3 linked regions of the Homo sapiens genome follow. The protein of the gene in region 3 interacts with the protein of the main gene of each other region in a pairwise test. Each region holds a gene or a part of one and is shown on either strand. Other genes may lie near its edges. The genes, in order: FAM177A1, MFSD6 and SGPL1.

The links.
Region 1: the proteins of SGPL1 (region 3) and FAM177A1 interact in binary tests that used the Homo sapiens proteins (3 or more experiments, as listed by UniProt).
Region 2: the proteins of SGPL1 (region 3) and MFSD6 interact in binary tests that used the Homo sapiens proteins (3 or more experiments, as listed by UniProt).

What each region holds. Positions count from the first base shown.
Region 1 is NC_000014.9:35,070,219-35,073,972, reverse strand, and holds part of FAM177A1 (protein FAM177A1 isoform 1 precursor), read right to left. Parts: intron 1-3,754.
Region 2 is NC_000002.12:190,411,227-190,414,980, reverse strand, and holds part of MFSD6 (major facilitator superfamily domain-containing protein 6), read right to left. Parts: intron 1-3,754.
Region 3 is NC_000010.11:70,818,872-70,822,625, forward strand, and holds part of SGPL1 (sphingosine-1-phosphate lyase 1), read left to right. Parts: intron 1-3,754. UniProt on the Homo sapiens protein: Cleaves phosphorylated sphingoid bases (PSBs), such as sphingosine-1-phosphate, into fatty aldehydes and phosphoethanolamine. Elevates stress-induced ceramide production and apoptosis.

The sequences.
Region 1 (3,754 bases), on a different chromosome or scaffold from region 3:
AAGATAGCAGATGAGTTCCCACACATCATTAGGAAAATCATTGAGAAGAAAGGATATCTATCAGAACAGGTTTTTAGTGGAGATCAAAGTGCCCTATTCTGAAAAAACATGCCACAAAAGACATTTATTAGTAAGGAAGAGAGGCAAGCACCAGGATTCAAGGCAGAAAGGGATAGGCTAACTCTACTATTTTGTACAAATGCAGTCCGGTTTATGATTAGGACTGCCCTTATCTATAAAGCTGCTAGCCCCCAAGCCTTAAAGGAAAAAGATAAACACCAGCTACCAGTCTTTTGTCTGTACTTGTCAAGGCCTAGACAACAAGAACCCTTTTCCTGGATTGGTTCCATCAATGCTTTGTCCCTGAAGTCAGGAAGTATTCTGTTAATAAGGGACTGCCTTTTAAAATTCTTTTGTTATTGGACAATGCTCCTGGCCACCCAGAACCCCACAAGTTCAACACTGAAGGTGTCAAAGTGTTGTACTTGCCCCCAAACACAACATCTCTAGTTCAGCCTCTGGATCAGGGGTCATAAGGACCTTTAAGGCTCATTACACACAGTACTCTATGGAAAGCATTGTTGATGCCATAGAAGAGAACCCTGGGCAGTGTGGTGGCTTACGCCTATAATCCCAGTACTTCAGGAGGCTGAGGCGGGCAGATTACCTGAGCTCAGGATTTTGCGACCAGCCTGGGCAACATGGTGAAACCCTGTCTTTACTAAAATACAAAATATTAGCTGGGCATGGCAGCGTGCACCTGTAGTCCAGCTACTTGGGAGGCTGAGGCAGGAGAATTGCTTGAACCCAGGAGATGGAGGTTGCAGTGAGCCAAGATCACGCCACTGCACTCCAGCCTGGGTGACAGCGAGACTCCGTCTCAAAAAAAAGAAGAAGAAGAAGAAGAAGAGAACCCTGATAAAGAAAACATCATGAAAGTCTGGAAGGATTACACCACTGAAGATGCCATTGTTATAGAAAAAGCTGTGAAAGACATCAACACGAAACAAATTTCTGCTGGAGAAAACTGTGCCCAAGTGTTGTGCACATCTTCACAGGATTTACGACAGAGCCAATCAATGAAATCATGAAAGATATGGTAGATATGAAAGGAAAGGGGGGGTGGAGGGTGGAGCGTTTCAAAATTTGGATCTCGGAGAAATTCAAGAGCTAACAGACACAACACCAGAGATATTAACAGAAAATGGCTTGATAGAGATGAGTGCCTCCAAACCACTGCCAGATAATGAAGAAGATGTAAAAGCAGCAGTGCCAGAAAAGAAACTGACATTAGACAATCTGGCAGAAGGGCTCCGATTTTTCAAGACTACTTGACTTCTTTTACAACATGGACCCTTCTATACAGGCAATGAAACTAAAGCAAATGGTGGGAAAAGAACTGTTACCACCTAAAACAATTTTTAGAGAAATAAAAAAGTAAAACAGTCAGACAGAAATTACTACGTATTTCCATGAAGTCACAGCAAGTACGCCTTTCTCTCTTGCCTCCCCTTCCACCTCCTGCCATGCCTAACACAGCAAGACCAACCCCTCCTCTTCCTCCTCAGCCTACTCAATGTGAAGACAATGAGGAAGAAGACTTATGATGATGATCCACTTCCCACTTAATGAATAGTAAATATATTTTCTCTTCCTTATAATTTTCTTAACCCTTTTTCCTTTCCTTTCCCCTTTCCTTTCTTTTATCTTTTCTTTGTCACCCAGGCTGGAGTGCAATGTTGCGATCTCGGCTCACTGCAACCTCCGCCTCCCAGGTTCAAGTGATTCTCCTGCCTCAGACTCCCGAGTAGCTGGGACTACAGGTGCCCAACACCACATCCGGCTAATTTTTGTATTTTTAGTAGAGATGGGGTTTCACTATATTGGCCAGGCTGGTCTCAAACTCCTGACCTTGTGATCTGCCCACCTCAGCCTCCCAAAGTGCTGGGATTACAGGCATGAGCCACCACGCCTAGCCAACATTTTCTTTTCTATAGCTTACTTTATTGTAAGAATAGAGCATATAATACATATAACATAAGAAATATGTGTTAATTGACTTTATGCTCTAGGTAAGGCTTCCAGTCAACACTAGGCTATTAGCAATTTAGTTTGGGGGGAATAAAAAGTTATAGGCAGATTTTCAACTGTGCAGGGTAGTTGGGGGGTCACACCCCTAAACTTCACATTGTTCAAGGTTCAACTGTAAATATGTTTCTCAGTGGACCAATTCTCCTGGGGTTGTTTCTGGCGAGAATAATTGATAATATCCAAGCTATGACTACCAAAGAATCAAATCTGCTCCAGAGCTGAAAAACAGGTTAATAATTCCTGAATAACATTTATCATCATCCCACACAACTATACAGAATGAATATATAGGGCCCTTTGTTTGAACATTGACTTGATTGAATCAAAAAAAAGAAGTAGCTAGAGTCTATGCCAGAATTCCACCACCTAGACTATCCCAGTAATAGCAAAACTGGGACAAGATCTTGTGTCTTCAAGACTTCTTGTATATAGTGCTAAAACTCAAAATGATTCATTTTTCCTCCAAAAATATAAGTATCTCTTCCTTCCCTATTAAGACCTACTACCTTTTCTTATTAAAACAATTTATTTTCAGATTATAAAAGTCATATTTATTTGTTGTAGAACACTTAGAAAATGGAGGTCGGCCGGGTGCAGTGGCTCACGCCTGTAATCCCAGCACTTTGGGAGGCCGAGGAGGGTGGATCACGAGGTCAAGAGATCGAGACCATCCTGGCTAACACGGTGAAACCCTGTCTCTAAAAAAAAATACAAAAAATCAGCCGGGCGTGGTGGCAGGTGCCTGTAGTCCCAGCTACTCAGGAGGCTGAGGCAGAAGAATGGCGTGAACCTGGGAGGCGGAGCTTGCAGTGAGCTGAGATCGCACCACTGCACTCCAGCATGGGCAACAGAGCAAGACTCCGTCTCAAAAAAAAAAAGAAAGAAAGAAAGAAAGAAAATGGAGGTCAATATAAGAAAAATGTAATTCACCCATTTTCCACCACCTAGAAATAATTATCCAAATATCAGGGTACCTTTCCAGTCTTTTCCTGAGCATACACTTATTTTTACAACATTGTTGTCCCTTACATATTTTCTCTATCCTATTTTTCCACATGTATTATATCATATTAATATAATTATAATATTAAGCCTATTTACTTAATCTGCTTAAATTCCTAAAGGTGGAATTAACTAGGCCAAAAATATAATCATTTAGGAAGCTCTTCATTCACATTGCAAAACTTCACACTAGAAAATTTGCCTATAAATATGCAGTAGCAATGTATGTGATTGTCCATTAACTTGTAGCTCCGCCGGGTGTGGTGGCTCACGCCTGTAATCCCAGCACTTTGGGAGGCCAAGGTGGGCAGATAACAAGGTCAGGAGTTCGAGACCAGCCTGACCAACATGGTGAAACCCTGTCTCTACCAAAAATACAAAAATTAGCCAGGTGTGGTAGCATGCACCTGTAGTCCCAGCTACTTGGGAAGCTGAGGCAGGAGAATTGCTTGAATCCGGGAGGCTGAGGTTGCAGCGAGGCGAGATCATGCCACTGCACTCCAGCCTGGACGACAGAGCGAGACTCCGACGCAAAGAAAAAAAAAATATTGTTATAGGCCGGACACGGTGGCTCATGCCTGTAATCCCAGCACTTTCGGAGGCTGAGGCGGGTGGATCACGAGGTCAGGAGATCGAGATCATCCTGGCCAACATGTACCTT
Region 2 (3,754 bases), on a different chromosome or scaffold from region 3:
TAGAACTTAACTACATGGTAAAATGCATCATGTTAAATGAAAGAGCAGGACACAAACCTCTCGATATAGTACAGTTTATATTTGTAAATCTATGTAGCTCAAATAAAATGTATTTTAGAAAAAGACTCGATAAAAATGACACCAAAGTGTTATCAGGGATTATCTCTGAGTAGTAAAATTAGGACTTATTTAATTTTTTTCTTATACTTGGCTGGATTTTTAAAAAATCATTATTTATCACTTTAAAAATACATATTTAAAAAGGAATTATTTTAAATATAAAACATTTGAGTGACAATTAGGATGTCCTTGTTCCCGGAGTTCCTGAAAAATTATAGAGTTATTAAATTGAGGTCTGATCATTCATCTAATGCCTTGTGCTTCCCAGTATACGGAATTGAAAGGGACTGTCACAAGGACTTTGAGACACTCTTAAAAGATATGCACACCTTTTACAGGGAGCCTCATTACACAGAAAATAAAATTGAAATGTGTCATGTTTACTCATTCAAAAGAATCATAATAAAGTCTTTTATTTAAACTCCCTTATAAATGTGAATTGGGGCATATTTGTTCATTAGTTAAACACAATTGCACAGGCATGATTTTGAAATAGAATTAAGAAAGGCACTCCATAATAGCTAAAGAAGCTTGCCTTTGCTGGATTGGAGCACGTTAATCAAGAACACAGCGCTTCTTTATTTTATGTTCCAGGACACATGTGCAGGACATGTGGGTTTGTTACATAGGCAAACGTGTGCCATGGTGGTTTGCAGCACCTACCAACCCATCATCTAGGTATTAAGCCCCACATGCATTAGTTATTTATCCTGATGCTCTCCCTCCCCCTGCCACCCAACCCCCCAGACAGGCCCCAGGAACACAGTACTTCTTAAAAGTCATAGGCAGCATGCATGTCACTTTGTATGATTCTGCTTTATGTGTTTGGTGTGGTGCCTTCCTCCTTTGCTCTACCTTGAGCCAAGTACCTTGAGGCCAAGTATGTTCTACCTTAACTTTGTCCCTAAAAGTGCCCTGAACAGTTAAGAATTCCCAGCGTGACTCACAGGGACCCACTCCTGCCACTGCTCCAGTGCTCAGTTTCTCCTGGAATCCTGGGCCCTGACTGCCATGTCTCCTCTTCACCCCACAGTATAGCAGGGCTCATGGTACATTGGTTTATTGGAGCTCAGAGAGAGCAGGCCCCGTGCAGAGTGGAGTGCACCTGCCTGTGGAACAAGGTCTCTCTACATAACCAACACAGACTGCTAACTACCAGTCCAGGCTCGCCACTCACTTTCCTTTGGCACGGTTAACCCACACATCGGGCTTGTTCAGGCAGCACCAGTTCCTCCTTTTTATCCTCCTCAAAGCCACACACCAGAGCTCACTCTGCCCACTGCTGATTCATAGTGTCCCTGTCTTTCCCTGTCTTTCCCCCATCCCACTCTTGGTCTCAGATCAAAATGCTTCCAAACATTTCCTCAGAGTCATTCAGAGCTGGCCTTTCCTGTTTTGTACTTGCCAAATGTTTCCTGAATTGGTCTCCCATTCTAAAACATGCCCCACAACAAATGTCAAAGAAAGACATCTCTGCCCCCCTTAATTCAATTTTTTTCCACATCTCTTGAACATGGTTTTTTAAGGGTCTGAATTTCTTCCCATCTTTGCCCTATTCTCCCCCATTCTACCCCGCCCCTCCCATCCTAAAATGCAGCAGGACCACCAGGTCACAAGGTAATACAGAACTCTCACTCACATCTCTTCAACATAATCATCAACACGTGGCTCAGCTAGATTTACATCATAATGGATCAAGGCAGGGAGAGGCTACTTTGAATACATACAACATTGGGATGTAGTTTTTGTTGGTGCTGAGGTAGAGGTGGGGGTTTGGGAGGGTGTGCTCTTTTTAAAGCCATAACATAGCAACCAGTAACTATAGCAGACACATATTAACATATAGGCTCAAGGTTTAGGTGTTCCACGTTTGTAATTATTTATTATTTGGTTGGCTTTTCTGTTTTGGCCCCTGCACCAAACATCACTTGTCTGAACAAATGACTGGTAGATTCCAAAAGTTGCCCAGCCAACTTGAGACAATGCCATTTTGCAAAAACAGTAAATAAATATCATCCAAATGTGGGCAATCAAAAACAGCTACAAAGCAAATGTTACTGAATCCAGCAGTGGGGCTAAGTACTGGATAACGTATCATTCAGAATTTAGGAAAACAAATCAGGCTGACACAAGCCCCTCTCACCCCCAAAATGCCAGTAGAGTAAATGGGAACAGACAGCTAATGTTGGATAATTAAACATGGAGGAATTATAAACTCAAAGGAAATGTTCTTGGTGGAGGCATTAAGGTGTTTTCATTGCCCCACACAGAATTGACATCAGATGTGTTTGTTTGCTTTTCCCAGGAATCAAAAATGCTATGCCCAAGGAAATGCCATGTTAGTTGAGTTTGAGGAAGAAATTTTACCCAAACTGGCCTTGTAGTAGGGTAGGACTTTGCACTTGATTTCTGCCTTTAAAGATAACCTATTGAACAAAGTTTCCTAAATTAAAAGATGGAGATTTCCTTCTGCCTAAAACATAATTAGAACCCAAAATGAAATGTTGGATAATACCTAAAATTGTGAGAATATCTCTTCTGTAAAATACTTTTACAATTCCCTCTTTCTCAAGATTACCTACTACCACAATGATAATTAACCAAGTTTAAGCATGTGTTTTCTTGATTCTGAAAAGTCTGAATGTATTATGGCTCTGGATTTCTAAGTCTGGAAATGTATTAATTTTTAAGGATTCTAAGCAGTGGTTTTAGTTAATTTTACATAGAATTGGATAGAACTATGGGACTGTATTTAACAAGTACATATGCATCAGATTAGTTTAACTTTATGATAACTTGCTTCTCCTAAATTGTTACTAAAAATAATTATACCTAAAGTCATCCAGAATGCCATAATTTCATGAGATGACACAGCAGGTAAATTGGTTTCTCCAACTCCTACCTTCTACCAGATTGTTCTGTACAGAACAATCATGCTTCCAAAGACAGCCACCACTAGCAAGACCAGGAAGAAAGAAATTCTTATCACCCCTAATCAAGCAGATAAATTGTGTATGCTCCAAAGCATTCTTATTGAGGAGGAAAACTGAGGAGTTGTAGAATATGCTACAGTTACTATTAGAAAAAGTAAAAGCCAGTCACCTGAGACTCTTTACCCTTTGCCCCCCAATTCTCAGTATGCCACCTTTCACTTTGATCTCCTGAGTCTCATTTCACTTCCCTAACATTAGAGTTTAGGCACATTCAATTTTATCTTACTTTGGATTGTTATAAAATCAATTAATTCTAGTCTTCTTTTGTTTTCCTTTTTAGTTTATATAATAAGAGAACACATGCTTGTTCCAAAAACAAAATTTTAAGCCCAAACATAACTTTATAAGGTAAAAAGCAAAAACATCCTCTTTTCTCCATCTTGTCTCACTTCCTGAAGATAGCCACTGTCGGCTGGGCGCAGTGGCTCATGCCTGTAATCCCAGCACTTTGGGAGGCCTAGGCAGGGGAATCATGAGGTCAGGAGATGGAGACCATCCTGGCCAACATGATGAAACCCCGTCTCTACTAAAAAAATAAAAATTAGCTGAGCCTGGTGGCATGTGCCTGTAATCCCAGCTACTCGGGAGGCTGAGGCAGGAGAATAGTTTGAACCCAGGAGGCAGAGGTTGCAGTAGGCCGA
Region 3 (3,754 bases):
AAAAGGAAAGGGGATTTGTTAATCTCCCCTATCTCCTACATCCCCTTCATTCGCCTCTACCCCGTGCAGTAATTTATCACCCAGAAATAACCGCTGTGAGCATCTTGGATGGTTAATGCAGAGTGACTTGTAGCAATTGACAGTTTCTGTTTATCCTCTTACAGAAGGATATGTTTATGTAAATTATAGGTTCTTATATGTAAGATATTTCCCCATGCACAGAGATATGGTTATTACTTATAGGGCCTATGCATTTACTTTAACAGAACAATGACTGCTTTTACTCGGAATATTAACTTTGGAATCAGTTTTCTTTTGAGGTATTTCTCTAGCTGTTGCCACCACCTTTCACCTCCTCACCTGTTAATTTAGAATGTTTAGGAGTGTTGCTTTGCTTGTTGCTGTAAGGAATTAATCCACATAGATGCGAGTGGCCCTAGGCAGTCATCACTTTCTGAAGACAACATACATGTTGCATGAAGTGCTTTCACTGGAAAAGTTGTCATTCATTCCTTGACTGTAATGTATAATGCTATTTGGAACTAACTGGTAAAGAACCAATAACCATGGCTGGGTTTTCAGTGGCACACTAACCCATCATTCTATGAGGTGTTTCTCAAGCTACTTTATATGATATGTAAAACATGTTCTTGGCCCTCCACCTGGGAAGAAAGGACCTAAGTGAATAAAAAAATAACCTCAGTGCAGTGCAGCATCTCAGAATTAGAAATAGTCTTAGAAGTCATGGGATGCAGCTTTTTTTTTTTTTTTTTTTTTGAGACAAGGTCTCACTCTGATGCCCAGGCTGGAGTGCAGTGGCATGATCTCAGCTTACTGCATCCTCAATCTCTGAGGCTCAGATGATCCTTCCACCTCAGCCTCCTGAGTAGCTGGGACGACAGGCACATGCCACCATGCCCGGCTGATTTTTGTATTTATTTTTTGTAGAGATGGTAGTTTGCCATGTTACCCAGGCTGGTATCTAACTCCTGGGCTCAAGGGATCCAACCGCCTGCCTTGGCCTCCCAAAGTGCTGGATTACAGGCATGAGCCACTGTACCTGGCCTGTGATGCAGCTTATATTATACATGAATCTGTTGAAGAGTATCTCTGGTAAATGGATATCCAGTCTCCCGTCTTTTCTGCTAATGGAATAAGTGAGCAAAAGCTAGGAAACAATACAAGGTGGATTCAGGAATAGTAATGTTAACTCTGATAGCTAACATTTATTGAGCATGTATTACATGTTAAGTGTAGGAATACTGTACTTATTTAATTTTCACAAAAACCTTTTGGTATCCTTCTTTTACAGATGAAAAACGAGGCTTATAGAGAGTAACTACAGCAGTTGAGTGGTGGAGCCAAGTTTGACCTCAGTTGGTCTGACTTCAGATCCCTCCCTCTTGCCTACTTTGTGTCCTTACCCCTGGTAAGGGTAGAGGTTGCTGACCATTGTGACTGATGGGAGAGGGTCTGTGTGGAGCAGATGGGATAGGATAGCTCCACCCTCTAGGGGGCACTTTGGCAATGGGGGACTGGGGGAGGAGGGAGTCTTTTTTCTTCTAGTGTAGTCTGAAAATACATGTTTTATTATTAAATTATTATTAAATCTTGTTTATTGGGTCAGGCGTGGTGGCTCATGCCTGTAATTCCAGCACTTTGGGAGGCTCAGGCGGGCAGAGTACTTGAGGCCAGGTGTTCTAGACCAGCCTGGTCAACATGGCGAAACTCTGTCTCTACTAAAAATACAAAAATTAGCTGGGCATGGTGGCGTACACTTGTATTCCCGGCTATTTAGGAGGCTGAGGCAAGAGAGTTGCTTGAACCCGGGAGGTGGAGGTTGCAGTGAGCTGAAGCTGCACCATTACACTCCAGCCTGGGCGACAGAGCGAGACTGTCTCAAAAAAAAAAAAATTTGTGTTTTATTTTCTTTTACGTCGCATTTAATGAATTATATTGAAATTTTAAAACTTGTATCTGCAGGCATAGTGTTATAATCTTTAAATGCCATGTCAGAGTAGCAAAAGGGATTACAGAATATTTGTTATAAAAAGAGGGCATTGGGTCATAGAGTTGAAGACTACTTGTGTGGACAGTATGCTGTGAGAGAAAACCTGGAGATGACCTGGAGTCCACATATAACAAGCCTTGAATCCAGACTGACAGGCTCGGGCTATCAGCCCTCAGTGTGTTCCTGCCCTCAATTTTGTTATCATTTGATTAGGATAGTTTGCTTGCCTTTTTCCATTTGCTCGTATGTGATGTGTCATAGACTGCAGTACTTTCCACCTGTGTCTCATAGAGAATAAAATGAGTATGTTCATCTGCTGAGAGTTGTGATGATGTCAGAGGGAATTCAAGTCAGACAGCTTTGTAGCAGCCTTTCTCCCCCTTGGCAACCATTCTTTTTATTCATACTCTCCTCCTTGGTGCTAGAGGGTGGTATCACTTTGCAAGTTGCCAAATATTTGTAGTTTTTAAGAAAAAGGTATTTTATAAAGCCAGTCTACCCCTTAGGTGGCTTTTTTCTTTTCTCATCAGAAAATGATGACTAAATTAGCTGATATTCATAGATGAATCAAGGTTAGCGTGTGCACCCTGGTAGTGCTAGGTGGGGTTTGAGTGATAATTGCTTATCTAGGGCAGTGGTTCTTGACCAGGGGCAATTTTGCCCTCTGGGTGACATTTGACAATGCCTAGAGACATTTTGGGTTGTTACACCTGAAGGGTTCTGCTGGCATCTAGTGGGTAGAGGCTAGGGATGCAACCAAACACCTTACAACGCACAGTTTCCTGCAAACAAGAATTATCTGGCCTAGAATGTCAATAGTGGTGAGGTTGAGAAACTGGTATGAAGTTTCTTACCATAGATACCTGGATATCTGTGTAGTCTATGCTTTCATATGGGTGGGGGAGTGATTCCCTTCTTGGAGGTTAACGTGTCTGTTATTGTCTCACTTGGGGTTATTTTGCCCATGGGTCAAGCCTTGCTGCTCAGGAATATATATTGGAGATGGTGCAGCTGATCTTTTATAGCAATGCAGAATTCTTAAGAAATGCTGTCCTTTGCAACATTTCTGCACCACTCTTTTCTTGATTTGCAAACAGCAAGCTTCCCTCAGTTTTGTTTTTTGGGTTCAAAAATTGAATCTTTCCAGGTCCTTGAGCGTCTTTATCTGTGACCCTTGACTCTTTTTCAGGGATGCTTTCTTTCTGAATCTCAAGTGGGATTTAAGCAATAAACTGAAAGATTGACCTTAGGAGCTCTGTTCTATTATTTGAGCCTTGTGTCTTGTTTGTAGGATTTGCTAGAAGAAAGGGAAAATTCATTGGGATTGTTGATAGGACATTAAAAAATTTGTTGACATTTGAGTGGCCATTGCAGGATGAACACTGTATTTGGCAATCTCCCAGTGTTATAGATGAAACAGAGCTGTAATAATTTCCACAGCCTTTGGTTTAAAGGAAAAGAGGGTTATAAACAGATAGAATCCAAATCCCAGTATTTGACTTAGCTTTTCAGTCTATGTGTCAGGAATTTTTAGTAATATTTACCTTCTTAATTAGGTTTTACCCAATCTAATATTATATACAGTTTGTGCACATTGGTGGCAGAATTGAGAATCAGCCTGGGTTTAAGAATTTCCATAGGGAATTGATGTGAATCAGTCTGTATGTGTAAATGTACAGAACCCAATTACTGAGATAAAAACCATGCTGTGGGGGAAGGGGAGATAGGGGCCCTCTGAGAAGA